4 linked regions of the Homo sapiens genome follow. The protein of the gene in region 1 interacts with the protein of each later gene in a pairwise test. Each region holds a gene or a part of one and is shown in the gene's direction. Other genes may lie near its edges.

The links.
Region 2: the proteins of NECAB2 (region 1) and TRIM59 interact in binary tests that used the Homo sapiens proteins (3 or more experiments, as listed by UniProt).
Region 3: the proteins of NECAB2 (region 1) and SSC5D interact in binary tests that used the Homo sapiens proteins (3 or more experiments, as listed by UniProt).
Region 4: the proteins of NECAB2 (region 1) and TRIML2 interact in binary tests that used the Homo sapiens proteins (3 or more experiments, as listed by UniProt).

The regions. Positions count from the first base shown.
Region 1 is NC_000016.10:83,978,244-83,985,277, forward strand, and holds part of NECAB2 (N-terminal EF-hand calcium-binding protein 2), read left to right. Parts: intron 1-200; coding exon 201-309; intron 310-2,595; coding exon 2,596-2,621; intron 2,622-2,786; coding exon 2,787-2,884; intron 2,885-7,034. UniProt on the Homo sapiens protein: May act as a signaling scaffold protein that senses intracellular calcium.
Region 2 is NC_000003.12:160,439,787-160,446,786, reverse strand, and holds part of TRIM59 (tripartite motif-containing protein 59), read left to right. Parts: intron 1-7,000. UniProt on the Homo sapiens protein: E3 ubiquitin ligase involved in different processes such as development and immune response. Serves as a negative regulator for innate immune signaling pathways by suppressing RLR-induced activation of IRF3/7 and NF-kappa-B via interaction with adapter ECSIT.
Region 3 is NC_000019.10:55,498,415-55,505,448, forward strand, and holds part of SSC5D (soluble scavenger receptor cysteine-rich domain-containing protein SSC5D isoform 1 precursor), read left to right. Parts: intron 1-1,401; coding exon 1,402-1,998; intron 1,999-2,075; coding exon 2,076-2,390; intron 2,391-2,619; coding exon 2,620-2,787; intron 2,788-5,701; coding exon of another isoform or gene 5,702-5,772; exon of another isoform or gene 5,773-5,927; intron 5,928-7,034.
Region 4 is NC_000004.12:188,099,602-188,106,635, reverse strand, and holds part of TRIML2 (probable E3 ubiquitin-protein ligase TRIML2), read left to right. Parts: intron 1-625; exon of another isoform or gene 626-1,045; 5' UTR 1,046-1,267; coding exon 1,268-1,456; intron 1,457-1,703; coding exon 1,704-1,799; intron 1,800-5,362; exon of another isoform or gene 5,363-5,376; coding exon of another isoform or gene 5,377-5,385; coding exon 5,386-5,580; intron 5,581-7,034.

The DNA.
Region 1 (7,034 bases):
GAATTAGCTGGGTGGGTAGGGATTATCTAAAATGGAATTTGTCTTTTAGTTTGGGGATTAGCTGGGAGGGTAGGGATTATCTGAGCTGCAGTTGTTCTGTCAGTCAGGCCATTGACTGGATTTGGGGGCCGTGCATGCACTAGCCCCACCAGCCTTATCTCTGCAGACACCAGCTCCTTTCTCTGCTTCCTTCCTTGCAGATGATGGGAAGCTGTCCTTGGAGGAATTCCAGCTCTTCTTTGCAGATGGCGTCCTTAATGAGAAAGAACTGGAGGATCTCTTTCACACGATTGACTCTGACAACACCAAGTGAGCTTCAGTCCTGGCTGGCAGAGTGGGGGTGTGTGTGGGCTGTGGTGGAGGCATCTTTTCATCTAGTGTCCGTTCCTAGTCCCCTGTAAGGGGCAGGAGAACTGAAAATCCCCAAATTTGCTAATCCAGAAGTCAGCTCTTCACTGCCTGGGGTGAATGGGGCGTGTGCAGATTCATATTGCATTGGCTACTATCGCAAGTGTGTCTTCTGAGTGCACATGGCCAACTAAGGAGAGACTCCTGGTTTTGCACAGTGGACATGGGATTATGAAAATGGGAAGGTGGCAATGACTTCATCCTTCTGCCATCTTCAGCCAGCAGCCAGTTCTCACCCCAACCCCAATGCCTGTGTGTCCTCCCAGTCCCAACATTAACTGTGAGGTTGAACGTCATCCTAACACTGACTCCTGTGTTAAACCAAACACGAATCCTAACTCAACACTACGTCTATCATTATAGCTTATTAAACCTTTTCTCCAACCCAGTCATAACCCTGACCTGCATCTCAGAATCAGCCAAAAACTCTGTCTCCACCCATCTCTAAATCAAGTGGAAAATGCAGATTCTACTCAGACTTACCCTTGACCCTTCCCAGCCTCACCTCCAATCTTGCCCTTTTCTTGGGATTCCCCAGACAGGATGAGGTCTGAGCCCTCTCCTCAACCCCACCTTCAGGAGGGATCAGAGCCCCACCTGGTCTCCTTTCTCAGGCCTACTCGCGTGATGAGGACCCAAGCTTCTGGAGGGCTGCTTAGGGCACATTTGGTAAGCGGAGGTTCTCTGAGACTGACTAGAGATGGTCTGGACAAGGAGCTACCACCAAACCAGTGTGCAAGGGGTAGAGTACAGTGGTGGTTTGGACCAGAGGCTGCGGCTGAGAGAGTCCTGGGGGGCACTGGCTGGGGACCGGGATATGGTAAGTGGAGCAGATACCATCCTCTGGGAAAGGCCACTTTAAAGAAATGGCTTCAGGCTCCAGACTGCAGAATGGAGAACTGTCTGGGGCCAGATGGAGATTTCTGAGCTGTTACTGCAGCTTCCTGGGGTGCTTTGAAGGGGCCAGGCAGGTGCCCATTGATTTAGACCTTCTCTTTCAGGGCCTTTTGTGTTAGGACCAGCGGGGTAGAGGAGGGGGTGGAGGCGGAGGGAGGAGGAGGCACTGGTTTGAGAGTCGAACTGTGAGAGTACGTGTGGGTGGGTGGGGGTGCAGGGAGGACTCGCGGTTATGGAAGGTCAAAGCTCTATAAAGACTTTTAGGATTAATCTCCCCAACATTACCTAAGGTGTGAGCCACGAACATTAGCCCCTTGGGATGCTAAATAGACTTTGTGCCCAAAACAGTGTACAAACCATCAAAAAGTTTTGTGAAACATGAATTAAAGCAGAATGACAGGGTCGCTTTCTGCAGGACTTGCCAGAACTCTGAATATGAGATGGAGGTTGGAGGCACCTCCTGACAGAGCATGCAGAGCCCCCGAGTGCAGATTCACTGGGCCACAGAAGCCTTCTGTCCAGATGTGCTTTGCTGAGCCTGGGCTCCACTGAGCACGATGAGGGACCTAGGCCCAGAAAGGGCCACCACCGTATTGGGTCCCTTGCACATTGACTTGGCAGTAGCTCCTTATCCAGACCATCTCTAGCCAGTCCCAGAGGGCCTCAGCTTATCAAATCTGCTCCTAAGCTGCAGAACCACCATAGTTCCCAGCACTGCACCCCTTATCTTGGGGCCGGTCTGTGCTCCTTCACTGCCATGGGGGATAGGCTCATGCTCAGCCTGCTCCCCCAAGAAAGGACAGGACCCTTCTCCAGGCTGTAGGAATGGGGATATGGGACCCAGGGGCTGCGACCAGAACAGGAAGGGCTCTGCCACAACCCCAGGAACTCCAGGACCCAGCAGGCAGGGTCGACTGGGGGTGGGTCAGTGGGTCAGATGAGAGCTTTGCTGACAGCCCGTCACAGTAATGGGTCCCCACTCTCTGTCCCTTTACCCCTTTCCTGGCCCCCAGCTTGGCCCTCCCCTTGGTGTCATTTATTCATGATGGGGTCAGCAGACTCCGAGAAAACAGAACAAGGGTGGGTGGTGTGGGGGATCAGACAGACGTGGGCCTTCAGGGGCGGGGGTGTCACCTACCTGCTGCACCCTCTTCTGTAAGGCGGAGCTTGTGGGGCCAGCACACAGGCTGCAAAGAGCAGGCAGGATGTGTGTTTCGCAGGCTGTGCAGGGTCAGGCCTGCTAACCCCCTCTCTGTCTCTGTCTGTCTCTGCCTCTGTCTGTCTCTGCAGCCATGTGGACACCAAGGAGCTGTGTGGTAGGTGCCTGGCTATGCTGGGACCAAGATGGGGATGCTGGGATGGGGCTGGATGAGAAGGGCCTGAGGCAGGGGAGGCTGGAGGTAGCGCAGGTGGGAGGTGCAGGAGTGCTGAGTGGGAGGGGCAGGACCTGTGACCCCTGACCTTTGCCTTTCCTTCCCCAGATTACTTTGTGGACCACATGGGTGACTATGAGGATGTCCTGGCCTCCCTGGAGACCTTGAATCACTCTGTCCTGAAGGCCATGGGTTATACCAAGAAGGTCAGTGGGTGTAGGTGGCCCCCGGGGTCCAGGGCTCCAGTGCTGCTTCAGTTCCACCCTTGCCTAAGGATGCCTGGATTTTTGAAGACAGGCCGCCAGGGAGGCCTATCTCAGGGGTGGGCTTTGCCTGGGCCTCTTTGAAGCAGCTGAGATGAACTGGGAAGGGAATAGAATGGTTTGGTGAATGGCTCTGGTTGGGAGCAGGAGGCATTTTCCCGGAATCAGGCCTGATCCTGGGCTGGGGCCTTAGAAAGGGTGGCCGCAATCACCCTGTGCCCTTAAGGGGTCCCCAGACAGGTGTCGTACCCTTCAGGGTGGGCTTACAAGACTGGAAGAGGGGGCGGGGTGGGGCGTGGTGGGGGGTGGTGGTTCATGCATCTGAACCCTGTCCCATATCAGGTTCTCGATGCTCAGCACCTGGTTTAATCCTCACAGCAACCCTATGGGTGGTTGCTGTCACCTCCACTATCTCACAGCTATGGAAACAGAGGCTCACAAAGGTGAACTCAACAGAGTCACAGCCAGACAGCCATAGCTGCTGGCTGGGATGAGTGGGGAAACTGAGTCAGGGACCTGGCAATAGGCATGGGAGTGTAGCATGAGACTCCAGGCACACCCAGGAGGCAACTGGAGAGTCAGTCATCCAGGAGCAGAGAGCAGCCATAGGGCACACTGGTCCAGGCCCACGGTGAGGGAACTGGGAGCATGCAAGGGTGAGGGACCCACAGGTGCTCGAGGCAGCAGCCACCAGCACCCTGAGCTTTGGGAGTCCAGAAAAGCCCAGCCTTGTCTGCCGGTTGAGGCCGGGGAACTTAGCTGATAAAGCCAGCCAGACCTGGCTGAGGGATCTGAGCTGGTTATTTCCCTTTCTGAGCCTCAGTTTTTCCATCTGTGAAATGGAGACATCCACCTTATGAATTACGAAGTCCTTCAGAGATTGAGCCAAGTAAGGCCTCTGAGCTATTGAGCATGCAGGACCAAGCTCGGAGCAAAGGCACCTGCTGGTTTGTATCAATACGCTCCTACTGTACGCTCAGCCAGATATTAAAACCCATTCTGTGCAATTTTCCCATGCTTCTCAGTTAGTGACCGCCATGTATTAGACAGTCTCTGTTTTGCCATATATCTAACAATAGTTGGGCCTCATTCTGGGCCTCCACGATTCCACATTTCCATTTCTGTCCCAGTATCATGCTGTTTTGAGTCTTGCTGTTTTAGAGTATATTTTAATACCATGTAAGACCTGCTCCCTTCAAGTATTAATCTTTGTAGAATATCGTTTGATATCCCCAAGTATCAAGGTATAGGCGGTGGATTAGAAGGTAGCATGGGAAGATCCCAGGCTTCCGAGTCACCCAGACAAGGGTGGCAATGCCAGCTCTGCTCCAAACAGGCTGTGTGAGGTCACCATGTGCTCACAGATGACCCTGGGAAATGGAAACCACCTCCTTGAGCCTCGGTTTTCTCACCTTAGAAGGGGCCCACGTCCTAGCCATGCTGTGAGGCATTCGTAACATCCATGGTTGCGTCTTGGTCTTCAGTCAGACTTTTCAGGAACATAAGAGAGTTCTCCATCAGTGTCTACTGATACAAGTTAGACCGGTTTTAGAGATCTTGCTCTTGGAAGTCATGTGCGTATGATGTCAGGGGTGGTCTTTGGTGGTTTTTTTGTGGCAGTCGTGGTGATGATAGGTTGTTGCATCCGTGATTGGCATTTCCTTTTTTTTTGTTTTCTTTTTCTTTTTCTTTTTCTTTTTTTTTGAGACAGAGTCTCACTCTTGTCCAGGCTGGAGTGCAGTGATACAATGTCGCCTCACTGCAACCTCTGCCTCCTGGGTTTGAGTGATTCTCCTGCCTCAGCCTCCCGAGTAGCTGGGACTACAGGCGCCCACCACCACTCCTGGGTAATTTTTGTAGTTTTAGTAGAGACGGGGTTTCACCATGTTGGCCAGGCTGGTCTCAAAGTCCTGACTTGAGGTGATCCGCCCACCTCGGCCTCCCAAAGTGCTGGGATTACAGGTGTGATGTGATTGGCATTTCTTTTGCTTGCGTATTTCCTAAGTGGTTTTTGTTTGTAGAAATGCAGCTTGTCGGTTGTTGTTTTGAATGCTTTTCTTGTATGTGCTGTTTGCTTTCGTCAAGCCGCAGCATCAGTTATTAAGAGTGCCGTTGTCTCTGCATTCTAACACGTGCCCCTCTTGCTTCCCTGTCTATCCTGTGGCATTTCTCTCATGTTCTAAAACGTCGTGGTGGGGCACGGCCAGGCATGCTTGTTTGGCTCCTGATTTTCGAGTGCATCTCTAGTACTTCTCTGCTGATTATCATATTAATACCAGCTCTTATTTTAGAATCCTTGTCAGCATGTTGGAGAAATATTTTTGCATTCCCTTTTTTCCATTTTGTCTTAGGAGGGTGGTGGTGAATTTTTTCAAATGCCTTTTGGTATTTTTAAATGATCATATGATTTTTTTCCCCTAAGCTATTGATGGGGTGGATGCTATTTTTAGATTGTCTCAAATTGAACAATCCTTCGCTCCCTGTGATAAACCCTAATTGGTATATTATTCTTTTATCACATTACTGAGTCCTTGTCATGAGCCAAGAATTTTATCTCTGTCTCCATTGGGAGTGGAGATCGGATGATAGCTTGGGAATGATTTTGTGAAGTGGTTTTGAATGTGTTCTGTGTATGAATCAGCTTCTCTAACATAGCATCATTTTTCTACGTAAAAATAGAATTTATCCATAACGCTTGGGTCTCAGTGTTAAACAGGGGAGGGGATGATTTTCATAGTTATTTTAAGGTCATCTCTACTTTTAGTCAACTTTTTCACTTGTCCATTGTAAAATACATATATATATATGGTGGTTTTTTTTTTTTTTTTTTTGACGGAGTCTCGCTCTGTCATCCAGGCTGGAGTGCAGTGGCACAGTCCCAGCTCACTGCCAGCTCCGCCTCCCGGGTTCACGCCATTCTCCTGCTTCAGCCTCCCGAGTAGCTGGGACTACAGGCGCCCGCTACTACGCCTGGCTAATTTTTTGTATTTTTAGTAGAGACGGGGTTTCATCGTGTTAGCCAGGATGGTCTCCATCTCCTGACCTCGTGATCTGTCCTCCTCGGCCTCCCAAAGTGCTGGGATTACAGGCGTGAGCCACCGCGCCCGGCGGAATATTTTTAAACAAAACTGCCCTGGGCATAGTCGTTTTTACAATCAGTCATGCATGGAATGTTTTATGATTATTTTTAAAAATCTAAAACATTGTTTGACACACGCAGGCACTTAATGCACATTAAGTTCAATAAAAGATCTGCTGCCGCTCACGGTGGCTCACGCCTGTAATTCCAGCACTTTGGGAGGCCGAGGCGGGAGGATCGCTTGAGCCCAGAAGTTCAAGACCACCCTGGGCAACATAGTGGGACCCCGTTTCTACCAAAAACAAAACAAAACAAAATTAGCCGAGCATGGTGGGATGTGTCTGTAGTTCCCACCTTCTTGGGAGGCTGAGGTGAGAGGATCTCTGGAGCCTGGGAAGTCGAGGCTGCAGTGAGGCACAGCATGCCGCTGCAACCCAACCTGGGTGACAAGAGAAACCCTGTCTCTCAAAAATAAAAAAATAAAATGTGCTGCTGTAGCTCACATCTTAAGTTTCTCCCATTTTTCTACATTTTAAAACCTTGTATTTGACAGTTTTGCCTGTTTTAATTAGCTGTTTCAAATAACAAGCTCCTGGCACATTTATTTAAATTTCATGACATGTTTTCTTATTTATTTATAGCTCCTATCATTATTATTTCCTCCCTCTTATAACTTTAGGTTTGTTGTTTTTGCTGTTCTTTTTCATATGTGAAATGGAATGGTTTTTTTGATAATGTTGACATTTTTAAAATTTACTTTTGATGGGGGCTGGGTGCAGTGGCTCACGCCTGTTATCCCAGTACTTTGGGAGGCCGGGGCGGGCAGATCACCTGAGGTCAGGAGTTTGAGACCAGCGTGGCCAACATGGTGAAACCCTGTCTGTACTAAAAATACAAAAATTAGCCGAGCGTGGTGGCAGGCGCCTGTAATCCCAGCTACTTGGGAGGCTGAGGCAGGAGAATCACTTGAACCCGGGAGGTGGAGGTTGCAGTGAGTAGAGACTGCGCCATTGC
Region 2 (7,000 bases), on another chromosome or scaffold:
GAGAATCTAATGCTGACACTGGCAGGAGGCGGAGCTCAGGTGGGCTCGAGGCGGAGCTCAGGTGGGCTTGCCCGCCACCATGGTGGGGGCGCAGGGTGGGTAGGAAGGGTTGAGGACCCCTGCATTAAATGATAACTCTACATCTTCCCTGCTCTCAAGCCCTGGCAACTACCATTCTACTTTCTGTCTTTGAGGACTGCTTATTGGTTTTGATATTATATATATTATATGCTTTTTTCACATATAATGTGAATGTAAATTTTTTTTCCATTGAACTAATTGACTGAATTATATTAATAGATTTTTCGTTATTGAATTAACTTTGTATTTCTGGAAAGAACCTTATTTAGTCATGGTACAGTGTTTTTTTTAATGTACTCCTGTGTTTGTTTTTGCTAACATTGTATTTAGAATTTTACATCAGTGTCCATTTTTGAAATTAGTCCATTTTTAGTTTGTATTGTCTCAGGTTTTGGAATCATGTTATACTGTCTTCAAAATATTTAGCAAACTTTTCATATTTGTATTCTGGAACAGTTGAGTAGGGCCTAGTCCACACTCAAGGGAGAGGAGATTTCAAGAGTATCCAGAAAGTGTAGGTCATTGGGGGCCATTTTAGAGGCTACCTATCACAGATAGCTAATGGCTTGTTTATTTACTTAAAGAACCAATTCTTAGACTGGTCATGGTGGCTCACAGCTGTAATCTCAGCACTTTGGGAGGCTGAGGGGGGAAGGATGTCTTGAGGCTAGGGGTTTGAGACCAGCCTGGGCAACGTAGTGAGACCCTATCTCTACAAAGCATAAAAACATTAGGCATGTGTGTTAACATGCACCTATCAGCTACTTGGGAGGCTGAGCTGGGAGGATTGTTTGAGCCTGGGAAGTTGAGGCTGCAGTGAGCCATGGTCACACCACTGCATTCCAGCCCTGGTGACAGAGCAAGACTCAGTCTCAAAAAGAGCCATCTCTTGGGTTTATCAGTTCTAGCAATTTTTTTTTTTTTTTTTTTTTGAGACAGAGTCTTGCTCTGTCACCCAGACTGGAGTGCAGTGGCATGATCTCAGCTCACTGCAATCTCCGCCTCCCAGGTTTAAGCGATTCTCCTGCCTCAGCCTCCCGAGTAGCTGGGATTATAGGCGTCTGTCACCCTGCCCAGCTAATTTTTGTATTTTTAGTAGAGATGGGGTTTTGTCATGTTGGCTAGGCTGGTCTTGAACTCCTGACTTCAGGTGGTCCGCCTGTCTCGGCCTCCCAAGGTGCTGGGATTGCAGGTGTGAGCCACAGTGCCCAGCCAGTTCTAGCAATTTAAGTTTTCTAGTTCATTATCATCTTCCATTTATCTTTATTCTTTTTTTATTTTTTGAGACAAAGTGTGGCTCTGTAGTCTAGGCTGGAATGCAGTGGAACGACCGTGGCTCATGGCTCATTGCAGCCTGGACCTCCCAGGCTCAAGCAATCCTCCCTCCTCAGCCTCCTGAGTAGCTGGGACTAACAGGCGTGCGCCACCATACTTAGCTAAGTTTTTTATTTTTTGTAGAGATGGGGTTTCACTGTGTTGCCAGGGCTGGTCTCGAATTGCTGGGCTCAAGTGATCCTCCCACCTTGGCCTTCCACAGTGCTGGGATTACAGGTATGAGCCATTACACCAGGCCAATTTTTATTCTTTTTTTTCCACTTTTCCTCTTTTTTTTTTTTAGTTGAATTATTTTATATTCCTTTTGGTTTGGTAAGTAAAGTGTATGGTGTCAGCTCTGCCCATGTAATTTTTTTTTAGCTCTGTAGATTTTACTGAAGAGTATTTCTGTTGTTTCACATGAATAAATTATGTCGTGGCTGTGTACAGAATTCTCAGCTCATATCCCTTTCCTTCTAGTCTTTGTGGACATTGCTACATTCTGTTCTAGCATTCCTTGTTGCTGGTGATGTTCTGGTTATTTCCTGCTGTGTAACAAACATCTGAAAGCTTGGCTGGCCAGATATTCAAGATGTCTTTTTCACTCATGTGTCTGGAAACTCCTTGCCCTTCTATTTGGCCTGTCTCTTCAGCAAAGTAGCCTGGACTTCTTACATAGCAGTTTGTGGCTCCGAGGCAGCAACCTGCCAAACTAGTTAAGGGCTATACCTAGAACTCACCACATCACTTATACTGTATCCTATTGGTCAGAACAGTCACATGGCCCACACATATTCTAATGGGGGAGAATAGATTTCATCTCCATGTGCAGGGAGTAGCAGCAAAGTCACATTATAGGACAGCTCATGTGGGAGATAATTATTGTGGCCATTCCAATTTTGGAAATTCCAGTCTCCCAGAGGAGGATTCTGAGACCTTTGGTTTAGTTTTCCTTTTTTCATCCTTCTTTTCTGTGTGGATACTTGTAGAATTGTTCTTATTTCTTTAAAATTGTATTATATTTTTAATTGCTTAATAGTTAAAAGCGAAACCATGATTTATAATGAAAAACAGATTCTTTCCCTCTAGAAGCCATCACTTTTATCTGCTTTAACATTTCTTTTGGTATTTTCTTTTATATTTCTAGATATTTATTTTTTGTGGGTTATTTTTTAAGTATGTATTGACTTTCTTATAAGGAAAAATTAAGATTTAGTTCTTAAACTGTTTCCTTCCCTTATTTTCCCCCTCAATATAATTTTGTTACTCTTTGGTAAAATCAGTATTTGATATTTACAATATTATGACTGTTACAGTGACAGCTGAGCCATATACTATAATATTAATATTTCCTCTCTTTTCATGATTCTATCACGTTTTTTCCCTAAATTTAGTTACCTCTCAATATGTTTCATATACATGAAGCATTTCTGTCAGTTCCATTTATTTACTTAAAGATCTGTCTTCTGCATGCCTGAAATCACAGCACTTTGGGAGGTCGAGGCAGGTGGATCATGAGGTCAGGAGATTGAGACCAACCTGGCTATCATGGTGAAACCCCATCTCTACTAAAAATACAAAAAAATTAGCTGGGCGTGGTGGCGGGCGCCTGTAGTCCTAGCTGCTCGGGAAGCTGAGGCAGGAGAATGGCATGAACCCAGGAGGCGGAGCTTGCAGTGAGAGGAGATAGCGGCCACTGCACTCCAGCCTGGGCGACAGAGCGAGACTCTGTTTCAAAAAAAAAAAGATCTGTCTTTTGGATCTTTCTTCCTCTTCTAGAGTGACTCTTCCCTAGGCTTTCACAGTTGTCCTGGACTTCATTTCGCCATTATGCTGGCGAACATTCTTGCTTTTCTTTTCTCCCTGCAGTAGCTTCTTTAGAAAGAGTTGGAAGAAGGTTGTTCATTTTTGAGATCTTATATTGTCCAACTGTCTTTATATAAAAATGGATTATTTTTTTTCTAGGTATAGAGTTTTAATTTCCATTTCAGAAGCCATTTTTTTTCCCCTGAGAATATCAAAGGCATTACTCCATTGTCTTATTGTTTCCAGTGTTACTGATGTTTTTACTGTTTGGAAACCTACATACAGCATAGCTAAATCCAAGATGTTCATCCTAGAAAATATACATAGGTTAATTTTTTGTTCTTTTTCTTCCTTTCAGAAGCCTAGACTGGTTGTGGAAAATTTCTGCTGCATAAAATTTCATATTGGTTTCTGAAAGAACTAGCCTGTAAGCATGGTAGCCACCTGTATCTTTTTTTTTTCTAAAAAAGGCAGGGTCTTGCTCTGTTGCCTAGGCTGGAGTGCAGTGGCACAGTCGTGGCTCACTGCAGCCTCAACTTCTTGGGCTCAAGTGATCCTCCTGCCTCAGCTCCCCGCGTAGCTGGGATTATAGGCGTGTATCACTGTGCCTGACTAATGTTTAATTTTTTGTAGAGAATGGGGGTCTCTTGGTGTTGCCCAGGTTGGTCTTGAACTCCTGGCTTCAAGTGATCTTCCCACCTTGGCCTCCCAAAGTGCTGGAATTACAGGTGTGAACCACTGCACCTGGCCCACCTATATAGTTTACTTCTCAGGCAGCAACCAGAGTCAGAAAGTTCCTGACCTTACAAAGTTATTTTTCAGTTCTAGTTTCTCTTGAATTTGTTGCCTAAAATTAGTTTTTAATCAATAAATCAGTGAGAAAAGGGTAGTCTGAGAATAGATTTTGACTTCTGTGAACTTCAAGTTATCCACAAATTTTTGTCTAAAAAGTATTATTAAAAATTTTACATATGATAGCAGTAACTTTGAGACCAACCACGATTTTTGCTTCCTATTTTTTTTTTTTCCTTTTTTTGAGACAGAGTCTTGCTCTGTTGCCCTGGCTGGAGTGCAGTTGCGCCATTTCATGCCTCAGCTTCCCGAGTAGCTGGGATTATAGGGATTACAGGTGTGCGCCACCATGCCTGGCTAATTTTTGTATTTTTAGTAGATACAGGGTTTCACCATGTTGGCCAGGCTGGTCTCAAACTCCTTGCCTCAAGTGATCCACCTGCTTTGGCCTGCTTCCATTTTATATAAGCTTAGGATATGCTTTACAATGTCATGAATATTCTCATTCTAAAGAAAGTTGAGCTTTTGGGCCCCTAAGTGCATTCTCAGAGTTGTTCCCTAGTTTTCTGCAAGCATAGAATAGGGGTTTGGATAGAAAAGTTAGATTCTGTTTTAGGACTAGTTTTGCTACTTAAACAATTGAATAGCTCCAGTAATATTAAATCTAGATTAAATGTACGTCGACTGCTCAAATTTTATTTCCTACAAAGTGTTATTCTGTTTATTCCTTCAATGTGAATTCTGACATCACTGAAATACTCTGAAAAACACATTTGTTTTTCTTGGGTGGTTTCTGTATGACTTCATAGCTTTCTGTAGGTGTAGGGTAAAGTTGTAAAGTCTTGCCAGCATGCACTCACTTGAATTTATCTGCAGTGAATGTCATCTTCTTTACTGTTGCTCAATTACTTTAATTTGCTGGAATGCTCTACAGTTCAAGCTTAGTCTCTGTGTGACACACTTTGGCTCATTCGGGATCTGAATATTGTCAGTTTGAATGGAGTGCTTTTTTTCTTTTTTCTTTTTTTTTTTTTTTTTTTGAGATGGAGTCTCACTCTGTTGCCCAGGCTGGTGTGCAGTGGTGTGAACTTGGCTCACTGCAAGCTCTGCCTCCCGGGTTGACGCCATTCTCCTGCCTTAGCCTCCCAAGTGGCTGGGACTACAGGCGCCCACCACCACACCTGGCTAATTTTTTTGTATTTTTAGTAGAGACGGGGTTTCACCCTGTTAGGCAGGATGGTCTCAATCACCTGACCTCATGATTCACCCACCTCGGCCTCCCAAAGTGCGGAGATTACAGGCGTGAGCCCCCGCACCTGGCCTGAATGGAGTATTTTCTGATAGATTTTCGTTTTACACCTTTTCCTAAGCAGAGATTTTGCTATTAAAAAAACAAAAAACAAAAAACCCCAAAACAAAAATCTGTATTAACACAGGTCTCTGAAAAGGCATTTGTTCATTGAAGCAGTAACAAGTGAATGCCTGCAGTGTTAAAATTTGTGCCTAAATTGCAGGAATATAACCATTGTTTAGACACAATTCCTGCCCTTATAGGAGGCCTACATTCTAATGTATACAGAAAAGTTACAAAATTCTTAAATAAAATCTTGTTAAAGTGCTATGAAGTAAAAATGCAGTGTTTAATGAGAATAACAGGGGACCTAATCTGGGGAAAAGGCAGGCTCAAGTTGAGCCTTGAAGGAAGAGTTAAGAGTTTGACAGATCGTAAAGATAAGGAGCCAAGTTTGCATTTTATTAAAAATGCAGTTAGTTACTTTTAGTTGCTGTTTTCACAGATTTTTAATCTTAAAAGTTAGTTTTATAGCATGTGATTTGGTAACCTTTATATTTTACGTGAATGGCACTTGGGTGTTTATTTTTTTTGAGACGGAGTTTCGCTCTTGTTGTCCAGATGAGTGCGGTGGTGTAATCTTGGCTCACTGCAACCGCCACCTACTGAGTTCAAGCAATTCTCCTGTCTCAGCCTCCCAAGTAGCTGGGATTACACGCATTTGACACCACACTGGGCTAATTTTGTATTTTTAGTAGAGATGGAGTTTCTCCATGTTGGTCAGGCTGGTCTCAAACTCCCAACCTCAGGTGATCCGCCCGCCTCGGCCTCCCAAAGTGCTGGGATTATATGCGTGAACCACTGCGCCTGGCCATGGCACTTGGGTTTTTAAGTTTTGCCTAAGGTACTTTCAACAGTGGTATAACTTGATTTTTCTCTATCAAGGGGTAAGCTAGTCTTTAGAATTGTGGCTGATGCATTGAGGGTAGGTATAAAGGAAAGCAGTAGGAGGTGGTAGGGTGCAAAATGGTCAGGCTTCTGTTACTGGAAATATCAGTAGTAGCTTGCCAAGAGGTCAAGTTACTTGTGTCAGAGATGGTCTCTGAACTATCGCTACGTTTCTTTTTCTGTCTCAGAGAAATACGGATCGAGAGACTTTCATGAAGGAAAGATGACTAATGGTCTTCTTTTTGTTCTTTACCATTTAGTGCTCTAGTTTTTCACTTAAAAATTAATTCACAGTTACTATAGTCAACTCTTATCTTTCAAACTGATTTTTATTATAAGAATTAATTCAAAATTTTTCTGTCTTCTAAATCTGCAAGTTAAAATTATTGCTTTAGAGAATTATACTATGCTGATCCTGGGGTTTAAGCGTTCTTGTATTCTAATTTGAGAAGCTAAAAAATTTATGGTAGTAACAGTTACTGTGGAGAAATTTGATAGCTTGCTTTAGAAACCATTATTGAGCCAACTGGGACATGTTTCCTCCTTTTGTGTTAAAGAATATACTTTTGCTAAGCCTAACTTGTTGTAATAGAAATAGTCTTGTCTACTCATTATATGTGCTTGGTTTTGATTTTATCATCTTAAATGTTAAAATGTTGCACAAAATAGTTGTAATCACTAAGTAGACTTTAACAGAACACTTTGAATTTTAGTCTTTATTATGTAGTGTATTAGTCTGTTTTCATGCTGCTGATAAAGACATACCTG
Region 3 (7,034 bases), on another chromosome or scaffold:
TAACTTGCTCAAGATCACACAGCAACAACTAACTGGCAGATCTGGGATTCCCACTCAGAGAAGCTTCTGCTTCCTCTTCCTTCCAGGAATCAAGGAAATTTCCCACTAAGAAAGGAGCTTTAGCTTTCCTACGATGAAAGGAAGCAGGCAGGGCACTGGGAGATGGAAAGAAGCCAAAGTGAGAGCCAGTTAACATAAACTCAGGCAATGCCTGTTATTAAATTGCAGAGGCTGAGCCAGGTGCAGGGTCCTCATGCTGGGCTCATGAATGGAATGAACATGGTCTTGGTCTTTGAATAGCTCACAGCTCATGTAGAGAAATACTCTAACAAATCATTGCAAACCTGTGTGACTCGTTATAGTTTGAGGTTACCAAGACCACTGTCAGACTCAATAATTTGCTAGAAGAACTCTTAGAATCAAAGAATCTGTTACACTCAGCGTTATCGTTTATCACAGTGAAAGGATACAGATTAAAATCAGCCAAGGGAAGAGGCGCCTGAGGCAGGGCTCAGGAGACAGTAGGTGTGAGCTTCCAACTGTCCTGTCCCAGTGGAGTTATGCAGACAGCACTTCATTATCCCAGCAACGAAGTGGGACAACACACATGAGGAACTGCCAACTAGGGAAGTTCCCCCAAGCCTTGGCATCCAGAGTGTTCGTGGGGACTTGGCCACGTACATGTGGCTGACCATAAATCACACTGTTAGCATAGGCGATCTGGCATGGCCCAAGTGCCCCAGGGAAAAAAATCTCTTATCAGGCAAGGTGTTCCAAAGGCTTCGAAGTCATCTCCCAGGAGCCGGGGAAAAGGCGAAACCTTTCTTTGGGCAGGGTTAATCCTTTACTGCACACGTGTGCTAATCAGAAAGATGGAAGATGGAGAGTGGTGTCTCAAAGGATGGAGGCATCACCTCTGCTGGAAGCTACGGCTCTTCCCTCTGTCCCCGTCTTCCTGAGGGCCACGGGGGCACCACAGAAGGATTCTGAGTTCGGGAGTGGCCTGTCGGACCTGGGTACCCCACTGGTGGTCAGTAAGAATTGACAGGGAGGTAGGGAGACCTGTCAGAAGGTATAGGAAATGAGGCCCTGACTCAGAGCAGAAGCTGAGGAGATGGAGAGGAGAGGTCAGGTGTGAAAGGGTGAGGGGGTCAGTTATGTCCAGATTGTAAATGCCAAGAAGGCGGGGGCAGTGTCGGGTTTGGCTTGCCATAGGCTACCCGAGGGTCTAATATGGTGTGTGGCTCATAGGAGGTGCTCAATAAATATTTGTGACAATAAATGAATGAATGATGAATGAATGGGAACTGGGTGAGTGACTGGAGAGAAGGAGGGGCCTGGGTAGATGATCTTGTCATCATGGTGTCTCTGTCTTCTCTTCCTGCCCCACTCACCTTCCAGGGCCCCCAGGCCTGGACTCCATCTCAGACCCCTTCAGCTGGAGCTGGATTCCTGGACTGGGGAGAGATCGGGATGCCTGGCTCCCGGGAGAGCTGGCCACCAAGCCCTCTGCAAGTGTGACTGCCAGTGTTCTGGAGAAAACAACCACGAAGGCCCCAGGGAAAATGCCTAAGAGTACTAAGAAGTGGGTGACAAAAAATGCAAAGAGACCAACCACTCAACCCCCAGTGATGCCAACCACGAAACACTCCAGGGCCCAAAGCCCCCCAGACCTAACCTCACAGACCACTGCAGCACTGACCACTGAGGCCTCCCGAAGACCTACCTCTGAGTTTACCAGAAGGCCGACCACGGAGGCCCCCCAGAGATGGACCTCTCACACCACTGCCACGCTGACCCCTCAGGCCCCCCGAGAACGGACCACTAAGACCATGGCAATGCTGACCACTCAAGGCCCCCAAGAAATGACCTCTGAGTCCACTATCAAGAGTATCCCTCAGGCCTCCCTGGAGCCATCTGCTGAGATCCCAGAAGGGTCTCCAGAGTCACCCAAAGACCCGGCCCCCTCTCCCAGTGTTAGCACCACTGGGGAATCAGGTGAGTGGCCGTGAGGGGTGTGGGGAGAGAATGGGAGAGGCTGACCCTCCCTCCTGACCTAAGGGCCTTCCACGCAGGCCTGTTCCGGGTTCGTCTGGCCGATGGGCCCAACCGCTGTGCTGGCCGGCTGGAAGTGTGGCATGCCGGACGCTGGGGAACAGTGTGTGATGACAACTGGGACCTGCGGGACGCCACTGTGGCCTGCTGGGAACTGGGCTGTGGAAAGGTCCGGCCTCGAGTAGGCAAAACCCATTACGGCCCTGGGACTGGGCCCATCTGGCTGGATGACATGGGCTGTAAGGGAAGCGAGGCCTCACTGAGCGACTGCCCCTCGGGGGCTTGGGGGAAGCACAACTGTGACCACGAGGAAGACGTGGGGCTCACCTGCACTGGTACCAGGGCATGGCGGCGGTGGTGGGGTTGTCGGGGGTGGCCAGGAGAATGGAGTCAGGGTGGGGCCAGGTGACGGCACCATGGTCGACTCTAAAGAACTGGGTATGAGGGGTCGGGGTGGGGAGATCCCAGAGTTGCTCCAGAAGATTCCAAAAGGGGAGGGAAGAGCAGCAGCAAGGACCTCTGAGAAAGAGGATGGGGTCAACCATTACCCCAATTTCTCCAAAGGCTACACAGACTATGACGATTATCCCCCCTGGACCTGGGACCCCACCTCAAGAGAGGACCTGGCCAAGGGGACTACCACAGCGGGGGTACCTGGACACACTCTCCCCTGGAGGACCACCCGGCGCCCGGGTAGCTCCTCCCCAGCAATAAGGCGCCTGCCGGACACAGGTGAGAGGCCTGATTGGGGTGGCCATGGAGGGCCTCCATAAACCTCCATTCGCTTCCCTGCAGGGTTTCCAGAAAGACCCTTCTCAATGAGCTGGCTGAGGCCTCGGGGCACCCTGGAAAGGTTTTCCTTGGCTCCTGAGACCCTAAACGCATTACCTCCTTGGGCTCAATGGTGACACTTCTTCAGAGCCAAGGACACCATCTAAGAGATCAGGCTAAGCTCAGCAATCCTGAGCCCATGGCCCTCCTGTAAGCCACACAATATGCAAGCCTGGGGCCCTCAGTCAAACCCACAACCAAGGGCCATTCTGTCATCACATCATCGTCCCCACCCCAGCTCCCCCAGAGCAAGCGAAACCTCACCCATTCTTGAAGCTCACGCTCTGGTCCGGGCCTGGTATGGCTCAGAGGTGGGGACTCCTGGAGTGCAGCTTCTCTCCTTACCCTGGCCATCCCCTCCCTCTGGCCAGCAGAATCAGCCTCCAGGGCCACAGCTCCATCCCCCTCTGCTCTATGGCCTCTGTCTTGCTGCTGCAGCTCCTTCCACACCTGGGACCACGCCCCGCTTTGGCCCCCACATCACTGTCACCACATTCTTCTGCCTTTTTCTTTGCCTGTCTTCCTTGTATCCCCATCTCTCAGGATCCCTGCGAATCCATCTCTGCTCCTGTTTCTCACTTGCTGTTGGTCTCTTTTTTTCATTATCCATTTCTCACCCTCATCATCTCTATCTCTGTATTGCCCAGGATGGAGTGCAGTGGTGTGATCTCAGCTCACTGCAGCCTTGACTGCCCGGGCCCAAGCGATCCTCCTGCCTCAGCTTCCTGAAAAGGTGGGACTACAGATGTGCGCCACCACACCCGGCTCATTTTTAATTTTTGTAGAGACGGGCTCACTATGTTGCCCAGGCTGGTCTCAAACTCCTGAGCTCAGGCGATCCTCCTGTCTCACTCTCTCAAAGTGCTGGGCTTATGTCTGGGTTTATAAGTGTGAGCCACCATGCCTGGCCTCACTTCATTTTCCATGATCAAATTCTCTATCTTTTCTTCTCTGTGCCAATCTCTTTTTGCCTTTCATTTTCAATTTCTCACACTCGTCTTTATGCCGTATTTTTTTCATGGTAATTTCTTTTGCTCTCTCTCACCATCTTTCTCATTTTTTTTCTTTCGTTGTCAGTTTCATATTCCCATCATTTCTTTTTCCCTGTCTTTCTTTTTCAATTTCTCACCCTCATTACATCTATTTCTCACTCCAGTTTTCGTGGTCAGTTTCTCTTTATTTTTTTCTCCCTTGTCCTTCTGTCTTTTTGTTTCATTATCAGTCTCACACTCTCATCTCTGTTTCTCACCTAGTTTTTCCTGGTCAATTTATCTGTCTTTCCCCCTCAGTCTTTCACTTTTCTTTCAGATCTCACCTTCACCACCTCTGTTTCTCACTCCATTTTTCATGGTAAATTTCTCTCTCTCTTTTTTGAGACAGGATCTTGCTCTGTTGCCCAGGCTGAAGTGCAGTGGTGCGATCTCAGTTCACTGCAGCCTTGAACTCCCAGGCTCAGGTGATCCTCCGACCTCAGCCTCCTGAATAGCTGGGATTACAGATGCACACCACCATGCCTGGCTAATTTTTTTTTTTGAGACAGAGTCTTGCTGTGTTGCCCAGGCTGGAGTGCAGTGGCGTGGTCTCGGCTCACTGCAACCTCCACCTCCCGGGTTCAAGTGATTCTCCTGCCTCAGCCTCCTGAATAGCTGGGATTACAGGCGTGTGCCACCACTCCCGGCTAATTTTTGTATTTTTAGTAGAGACGGGTTTCACCATGTTGGCCAGGCTGGTCTCAAATTCCTGACCTCGTGATCCGCCTGCCTCGGCCTCCCAAAGTGCTGGGATTACAGGGGTGAGCCACTGCTCCCGGCCTGATTTTTTGTCGAGATGGGTTCTCACTATGTTGCCCAGGCTGGTCTCAAACTCTTGGGCTCAAGTCATCGGCTTGCTGCGGCCTCCCAAAGTGCTGGAATTGCAGGCGGGAGCCACTGGGCCCAAACTGTTTCTGTATCTTCCGTCCTCTTGTCTTTCACTTTCAGTTCTCAGCTTCGCCACCTGCTTCTCACTCGATTTTTCACGGTCGGTTTTGCTATATCACCTCATACTCTCATCGTCTCCATTTCTCACTGCGTTCTCTCCCCAGGCCCAGCGCTGTGGTATCTTTTCCTTTGTCTCTTACGGTTGTTTTCTGAGTCTCCATCTCCCGCGCCTTCCCTGCAGTCTCCCGCGTGCTCTCTTCTCTCTCCCCCTCGTTTCTCTCATGGTCAGCCCCCTTCCCTCCGTTTCTGTCTCCCGCGGGCTCCTCTGTCCGTTTCTCACCGTCCCCGCCGCCCTCGCCGCTCCCTCACGGGAGGTTTCACTCCCCACCTAAGGGGCAGCGTTTCTGTCCTCCCTCTGTGCCCGTCGCAGTCGCTGTTTCTCCGTCTTCTCCCTCCCTTCCACTCTCCCGCCCTGCTCGCCGTCTGGGGCTGCCTGGGTTTCTGCCTCTGTCGCCCCGCGCCCCGTACCTGTGCCCTCCTGAGAGGCCCAAGCCTCCCGCTCCCGCAGGAGAGTCTCGCCGCAAGCGTCCTTTCCCGCCTTTTTTTTTTCTGGCGCTCAGCACGCATGCGCAGGCGCGGTGGGCCCGGGAATGGAGGGACGGGATGGGGCAGGCGTTCATCTGCCTCGCACCTCGTGACGTCACAGGCGCGCTGCGCCTCCTGATTGGCCAGCCGGCGCATCGCCCGCAGTAATAATAGCTGGGCGAAGGGCAACCAGGCCCCAAGAAGCGGGCCTTGAGGTGGGGAAAGGGAGGGAGGAAGCAGGCCCTAGAGGCGCCGTGACTTGGGGGTGGGTGGGCTCCAGCTGTGAGTTAGAGCTATCATTCCGTTTCCAGAGCCGGAAGCGGGAGCTCCGAGAGGTGATGCTCCTCGTTCAAGGACTGCCAGGGTTGCAGCGCCTCCCTAGCCCATAGCGCCCCCTCGTGGTGGAGGCGGGCACGTGCCGGGCACAGCGGCTGCGGAGACAGCGGGTCCGGCCTCGGGACCCCTCCCGTAGGGTAGGGAGGCAGCCAATGAGCAGAAATAAATGCAGAATCACAAACTGCGCCGGTGAAATGAAAAGACAGCCATGTGTGCCACCTTATCAATAGGAAGACTTGGAGGCGTATGCGGGGTGGAGTGGGAGACGAGGCAGGCATGCATTCTTAGCTTCAGGAGCAATGTAACCTTGAAAAAGTGACTTGGTCTCTTTGAGTCCCCGTTTCTTATTTATATTGTTTTATTTATTTATTATTTATTGAGACGGAGTCTCGCTCTGTCACCCACGCTGGAGTGCAGTGGCGCTATCTCAGCTCACTGCAACCTCTGCCTCCCAGGTTTAAACGATTCTCCTGCTGCAGCCTCCTGTGTAGCTGGGATTACAGGCGCACGCCACCACACCGGGCTAATTTTTGTATTTTTAGTAGAGACGGGGTTTCACCATGTTGGCCAGGCTGGTCTCAAAGCCGACCTCGTGATCCACTCGCCTTGGCCTCCCGAAGTGCTGAGATTACAGGTGTGAGCCACCGCGCCCGGCCACCTGTTTCTTTCTCTGGAAAAAAAATGGGGCGCCAGGGTTGTTGGAAAGGTGGAACGAGAGCTCACCTAGTCTGTGCTGGGCATGCATGACCCCAACTTCAGGCCATAGAAACTGTTGCTACACCTGTGTTTCAGATGGGGTAAAAAGTGAGGCTCAGAGAAGTTTAACTTAGGAGCCACGATTATAACCTGTTTTAAGTGATTTCACACGTTTTGCTCCTTGGATTGGGAACCATATGCTAAAATAGAAGCACGAGTCTGGAGTCCGACTCTCCTACCAGGTTCCAATCGTGGTTCCAACCCGGATTAGAACTAGTTGGGTGACTGCAGGCCCCAATTCAATGAACAAAATGTGTGTGAAATCGTTTAAAACCGCAGAATATTGTTTGTTAGGGTTATTTGCTGAAAACGAACAACAGCTGCAGGATTTCAGGGAACGAGCGATTATTTGTAGTAGAGAAATCAAGGAAACCTCACAGGGGAGATGATATTATTTCATCAGCAGGCCACAAGGAGAAATGAATTCTCAGAGAAGCAAAGGGTGGGAGAAATTTGCATTGCCAGAAATTTTCATCGGTGTTATCCATCTCTGCTAGACTTTAAGCTCTGTGAAAGATCTGTATCTATTTCAATTGCTGCCATAATACATCG
Region 4 (7,034 bases), on another chromosome or scaffold:
AGCCGCGACCTGGGAGACCGTCTCCTGGCCGGTCACCTGGAGGGCGTGTAGCTCCGGGGCGCGGACCAAGAACTGCATGTTGGTGACTGAACCGCGGTTCCGGCTGCCGCCCCCGCGAAGATGGAGTCAAAGAGGAAGGAGCGAGGGCGCTCACGGCCAGACCGCGGGCAGCGCGTCACGTCACTCCTGAAATTTTATTTCGGAAACAATTATTGAGAAGAGTGGCTTTGGCTTCACTGTTTTGCAAATCTCTTTAATTGATGGCTTCTTAGAAGAGCCGTTTTCGGCCGGGCGCGGTGGCTCACGCCTGGAATCCCAGCACTTTGGGAGGCCGAGGCGGGTGGATCACGAGGTCAGGAGATCGAGACCATCCTGGCTAACACGGTGAAACCCCGTCTCTACTACAAAAATACAAAAAATTAGCCGGGCGAGGTGGCGGGCGCCTGAAGTCCCAGCTACTCGGGAGGCTGAGGCAGGAGAATGGCGGGAACCCGGGAGGCGGAGCTTGCAGGGAGCCGAGATCGCGCCACCGCACTCCAGCCTGGGTGACAGAGCGAGACTCCGTCTCAAAAAAAAAAAAAGAGGAGCTGTTTTCCCTTATTTGCTTCCCCATTCCTTCTGTTGCATGTGTTTTGTCCCAGCTGTAGTCCCAGCTACTCCGGAAGCTGAGGTGGGAGGATCGCTGGAGCCTGGGAGTTCCAGAGGCTGCAGTGAGCCGTGGTCACGCCACTGTACTCTAGACTGGGCAACAGAGCAAGACCCTGTCTCTCAAAGGGAAAGTATTTTAATAACTTTTTCAGATACTTGTGGTTTTTTTCTGTAATTCTATCAACGAACCTCTTTCGCACTCTGTTACCTCACTCTAGTCCTGAAGTTCCTTCAGTAATTAGCGCGATGCCTTTAGAGCACTGTTTTCCCCTGAATGACTCGTAAGTGAGTGCTGTTCCTTGTAATTAATTTTCAGCCTATTGCTCAAGATTGTCAGAAGACCTGAGGGAAACCCGCTGGTCTTAGAACACTGGCCTAACTCTGTCTTTTCCCCAAGCAGGCAGCTGCCAGAAATTTGTTGGATTTGAGGAGTCCAGAGCGCCGACCCGCTCTGTCTGCGTGGACTTATTTCCTTGGATCTTCGTGGACTCTGAAGTTGCCAAGTGTGTGTGCCTGCTCCAGAAAACAAAGGAAGCCACCATTTTTTCTCATTCACAGTGCAGGGAGATACCTCAGTAGAAGCATACAGTCCAGTCTTCAACTAGGGACCCCTACCAGGATGTCCAAAAGGCTCAGCCCTCAGTTACAGCACAACATCACAGAAGATGCCTATTGTGAAACACACCTGGAACCAACACGGCTGTTCTGTGATGTTGACCAAATCACACTCTGCAGCAAATGCTTCCAGTCCCAGGAGCACAAACATCACATGGTGTGTGGGATACAAGAGGCTGCTGAGAATTACAGGGTAAGAGTCACTCACGCAAATCCCAAAACACTCTGGCCAACTCCTATATGGATGAAATGGACAGACATTCTGGTCCTCCAAAACCATTACCTTAGTTGATGTTTATTACAGAATATTAGATAAGTTCGTTGAACCTTCAACCTAAAGGCTAAGAAAATATATACTCAGAGTTGTTGGCTGTTTAAGGTCAGGAATCCAACTGTTCTAAATCAATGATCTCACCTGGAATTCTGTGCTTTCTCTATAGAAGTTATTCCAGGAAATATTGAACACATCGAGGGAGAAACTTGAAGCAGCTAAAAGCATATTGACTGATGAGCAAGAAAGAATGGCGATGATTCAGGTCAGTGAGTGCTTATCTTGATTCTTGGGGGGAAATTACCAGTAATGTTGTTAGAAAATAGTGTATCATAAACAAAGTCAAAAGACAAATCACAAAGCAGGAAAAATGTGAAATCTATAGGAAGGAAAAGTGCTAATATCTTAATGTATAAAAAGCTCTTTAAAGTCAGTAAGAAGCTGGGTGTGGTGGCTCACGCCTGTAATCCCAGCACTTTGGGAAGCTGAGGAGGGCGGATCACTTGAGGTCAGGAGTTTGAGACCAGCCTGGCCAACATGGTGAAACCCCATCTCTACTAAAAATACAAAAATTAGCTGGGTGTGGTTGCACGAGCCTGTAATCCCAGCTACTCGGGAGGCTGAGGCAGGAGAATCGCTTGAACTGGGAGGCAGAGGTTGCAGTGAGCCGAGATCACACTACTGGACTCCAGCCTAGGCCACAGAGCAAGACTCCATCTCAAAAAAAATAAAAATAAAAAAAGTCAGTAAGGAAAAGACTAGAAATTTAATTTTAAAAAACGATCAAATAAGAGTTTGCAGAAAAGAAAGTAAATATATTTTAAATACATTGAAAGAATTTGAACTTTGTTCGTGGTAAGAGAAATACAAATTATATGGTGAGTAAAATGGCATTTGCAATGCTATTTGCAATGATCAAAAAGATTAACGACACCGTTTATAACAATGACATAGGAGAATGAGCATCTCTTGTACTTCTGGTTGCCACATAAATTCTAAAACCCTTTAAAGAGCAATTTGAGAATAGCTATTCAGATTTGAGGGTTCACCACCTGTTAGGCATATTTCACTTCTAATTTCAGCCTGTATCTTCATACTTAATCCTATTCTGTGCAAGGTATCCCCGATTCTGGGTCTTTTCTCTCCCTCAATTTTTAAAGGAAATAAATGCCTACTTAGGGAAGATAGTGGAGGAGAATTGCCTGGCTAGGTAAGGATTTTTCAACCGATCCCCCTTCTTTTTCAGTTCCAAGTACCATGTGTTCAGCAAATACTGAGATCCCACTGTTTGCCAGGGACTATGCAAGGTGCTAGGGGCTCACCAATGGAAAACAAAAAAAACCAGCTCTGCTTTCGTGGAACTTGCATTCTAGTGGATATAAACAAAATAAGTTTAATATATAGTATGTTACCTGGGAAGTGTTTAAAAAAATTTTTTTTAAGTGAGAAAGGAAGCAATGGAGTGAGCTTGTAAATAAAGTGATCAGAACCTTGTTATTCAGAAGGTGGCACTGAAGGAGGTGGGGGATTGGGCCATGCAGTTTTCTTGGGGAGGAATATTCTAGGCAGAGGAAAGGCCTGGAGGCTGCCGTGTATGTGGCTGGAGCTGTGTAAGGAAACGGGGGCTGTAGGTGATGAGATCAGAAGAAGGCGGTCAGTCATTTAGGGTGGCAGCCTTCAATGAAATACAAGCTTCAAAACCACTGGAAGGTTTCGAACAGAAGGCTGACATGATTTAACTTCCATTTTCATAGAAACACGCTAGCTGCCAAATGAAAATAGACATTAAGATAGTAAAAGCAGGCTGGTCGTGGTGGCTCATGCCTGTAATCCCAGCACTTTGGGAGGCCGAGGCGGGCGGATCACGAGGTCAGGAGATCGAGACCATCCTGGCTAACACGGTGAAACCCCGTCTCTACTAAAAAATCGGGTGTGGTGGCAGGTGCCTGTAGTCCCAGCTACTCAGGTGACTGAGGCAGGAGAATGGCATGAACTTTGGAGGCGGAGCTTGCAGTGAGCCGAGATGGCGCCACTGCACTCCAGCCTGGGCGACAGAGCGAGACTCCGTCTCAAAAAAAAAAAAAAAAAAAAAAAAACCAAGAGAGTAAAAGCAGAGGTGGAGAGACGTGCAAAGGGACTTGCAATAATTAGGGAGAGATGATGGTGAGCTGGGGGACAGGTAGAGCAGTGGTGAGAAGTAGTCAGGTTCTTGATAAATCTTGATTTCATTGAATCTTTTTTTTTTTTTTTTTGAGATGAAGTTTCGTTCTTGTTACCCAGGCTAGAGTTCAGTGACGCGATCTCGGCTCACTGCAACCTCCGCCTCCCGGGTTCAAGCAATTCTCCTGCCTTAGTCTCCCAGGTAGCTGACATTACAGGGGCCCGTCATCATGCCTGGCTAATTTTTTTATTTTTAGTAGAGACGGGGTTTCACCATGTTGGTCAGGCTGGTCTCGAACTGCTGACCCCATGATCCACCTGCCTTGGCCTCCCAAAGTGCTGGGATTACAGACGTGAGCCCGGACAATTTCACTGAATCTTAAATAGCTTAATAGAGATGCTATTTAAGCATCTCTAAGATGACTACTTTCAAATATATATCCCTAGCTCAGATTTCCAAATGGTAGTAGGCTTCATGTCCAATTTCCTACTTACTATCTTTACTTGGATGTCTAATTGACTAATCAAATTCATCACATCCCGAGCTAACGCACACTCCTCACTTCTGGAATCCAGCCTTTCCATAGATTCTCTCTATATATTTTGGTAATTCCATTCTTCCAGTTGCTTAGTCTAAAATTTTTGGTGTCTTTCGTCCATGACTCCTTTTTTCCCCACAACTCTTACCCAAGCATCAGCAAATCCCATTGGCCCTTTTCCAATGTCCTGGTCTCCTCCTCTGTTTGACAGAGGCTATAGCTTCCTTAGTTTTTCCTTATTGATGAACATTTCTTTTTTTTTTTTTTTTTTTTAAGATGGAGTCTCCCTCTGTCGCCCAGGCTGGAGTGCGGTGGCGCCATCTCGGCTCACTGCAAGCTCCACCTCCCGGGTTCACGCCATTCTCCTGCCTCAGCCTCCCGAGTAGCTGGGACTACAGGCGCCCGCCACCAAGCCCGGCTAATTTTTTGTATTTTTAGTAGAGACGGGGTTTCACCGTGTTAGCCAGGATGGTCTCGATCTCCTGACCTCGTGATCCGCCTGCCTCGGCCTCCCAAAGTGCTGGGATTACAGGCGTGAACCACCGCGCCCAGCCAATTCATTGATGAACATTTCTTCGTCTGCATTTTATGTTCTAAAATTGTGTTGATGTCTTGGCTGATGTTGACTCAAATTCTATTTCTCCTTTGGGTTTATTCCTTTTCTTCTGTACTTTACATTTCCTCGTCTTTTTTTGTTTGTTTGTTTTTTTGAGACAGAGTCTAGCTCTGTTGCCAGGCTGGAGTGCAGTGGCGTAATCTCTGCTCACTGCAACCTCCACCTCCCAGGTTCAAGCGATTCTCCTGCCTTAGCCTTCCGAGTAGCTGGGATTATGGGTGCTCCCCACCACGCCCAGCTAATTTTTGTATTTTTAGTAGAGATGGGGTTTCACCATGCTGGCCAGTATGGTCTCGATCTCCTGACCTCGTGATCCACCCACTTTGGCCTCCCAAAGTGCTGGGATTGCAGGCGTGAGCCACTGCGCCCAGCCTTCCTTGTCTTTATATTGGGGTTAGAGATGGAAAGAATACATTGTGGTCAGTGTAAGATATATATATCTATATATAGATATAGATATCTATCTATTATGACGTGTGTGTGTGTTGTTAATCTATCATGTTTAACCTGAAGTCTATCATGTCTATATGAGGAAGGAAGAGGAACAAAATTTTAAAAAGATGATTGAGTCTGAGTATAGTATGAGACTCCGGTTGTTGAATGAAGAGTGTGAGCAGAATCTCCAGAGACAGCAGGAATGCATATCTGACTTGAACCTGAGAGAAACCCTTCTGAATCAAGCGATCAAGCTTGCCACCGAGCTAGAGGAGATGTTCCAGGAAATGCTACAGGTGAGATATTGAAAACAACATCCTCATATTTGAGAAATGAGAAAAAGAAGAGCTAAACATTATGTCAATTCCAAAATAACATAGCCAGTGACAACCACACATGTATTAAATGAATTATATACCTACCTGGCAACTCCATTTCTATGAATTTATCTTGACATGCATATAAAAAGACATAAATAAAGCACAATATACCTATAAATATATTTGTACACATATTACTGTATTATGCTTCAAACATACTTACACACATAGAAAAAGACACCTGGGTAAGGCAACACTGAAACTGAGTTTCAGTTTAGAGCCATGGTTTAGAATTCACCTTTCTTTTTTTTGAGACAGAGTCTGGCTCTGTCTCCAGGCTGGAGTGCAGTGGCGCAATCTCAGCTCACTGCAAGCTTCGCCTCCCGGGTTCACGCCATTCTCCTGCCTCAGCCTCCCAAGTAGCTGGGATTACAGGTGCCCGCCACTACGCCCGGCTAATTTTTTGTATATTTAGTAGAGACGGGGTTTCACCGTGTTAGCCAGGATGGTCTCGATCTCCTGACCTCATGATCCACCCGCCTCAGCCTCCCAAAGTGCTGGGATTACAGGCGTGAGCCACCGCGCCCGGCCTAGAATTCACCTTTGAAGCCGGATGAATGGAGTTCCTATCTGAGCCAGCTGTTTACTGGCTCCTGGGTGGCCTACGACCTGCTGCTTAACCTTTGACTTGGTTCCTTTAGCTGTAAACTGGATATAACAGTGACCCCTAATTTATAAAATTATTGTGAGATTTGAGTGAGATAATCTGCTAAAGCTTATTAAATCGTGTCTTGTTCATGTTAAGCAGTTGATGAGTAGCAGATGTTACAATTATAACATTCATAGCAAGAGGTTAGAAACACCCTGTATTTGTCAATAGAAGACTCACAAAATGTGCTCCATACATACATGGAAGAATACTCTTCAGCATGTTAAGATGATGTCATGGCTCTGTGTATATGAATAAGGAATGTTCTCCAAGAATAAAGTAAGTTGTCAGATTAGTAATCAAATATAATAAACTATCACTTATGTTTATGTTTTTTCCCCCTAAATAACATACTCAAGTTGCGTATGTGACTACGCAGTATATGTAAAGTATACTTGGAAGGATAAAAAGAAAATTGATATCAGTAACGTAATTATTTATTTCTTATTAGTTAATCTATATACCTTAATTTTAATTGATTTCAAGTTAATGAAAAAATAGGGAACCTTCTGAACAAACAGCCACAGAAAAAACATGAAATGTTTTAGGTGCATATTAATGTGAGTAAGGGCTGCGTGCACACACATCTGTATTGGCTTAAACATACATAACAGGGGGCAAAGAATCAACTGTCTCTTGAGAGGAATCCTGCTTCAGCAGAAGAATATCATGGCCTTGCCTAATTATGTCTGTTCCTGGGGTAGCAGGCAGAAAAGCAGGG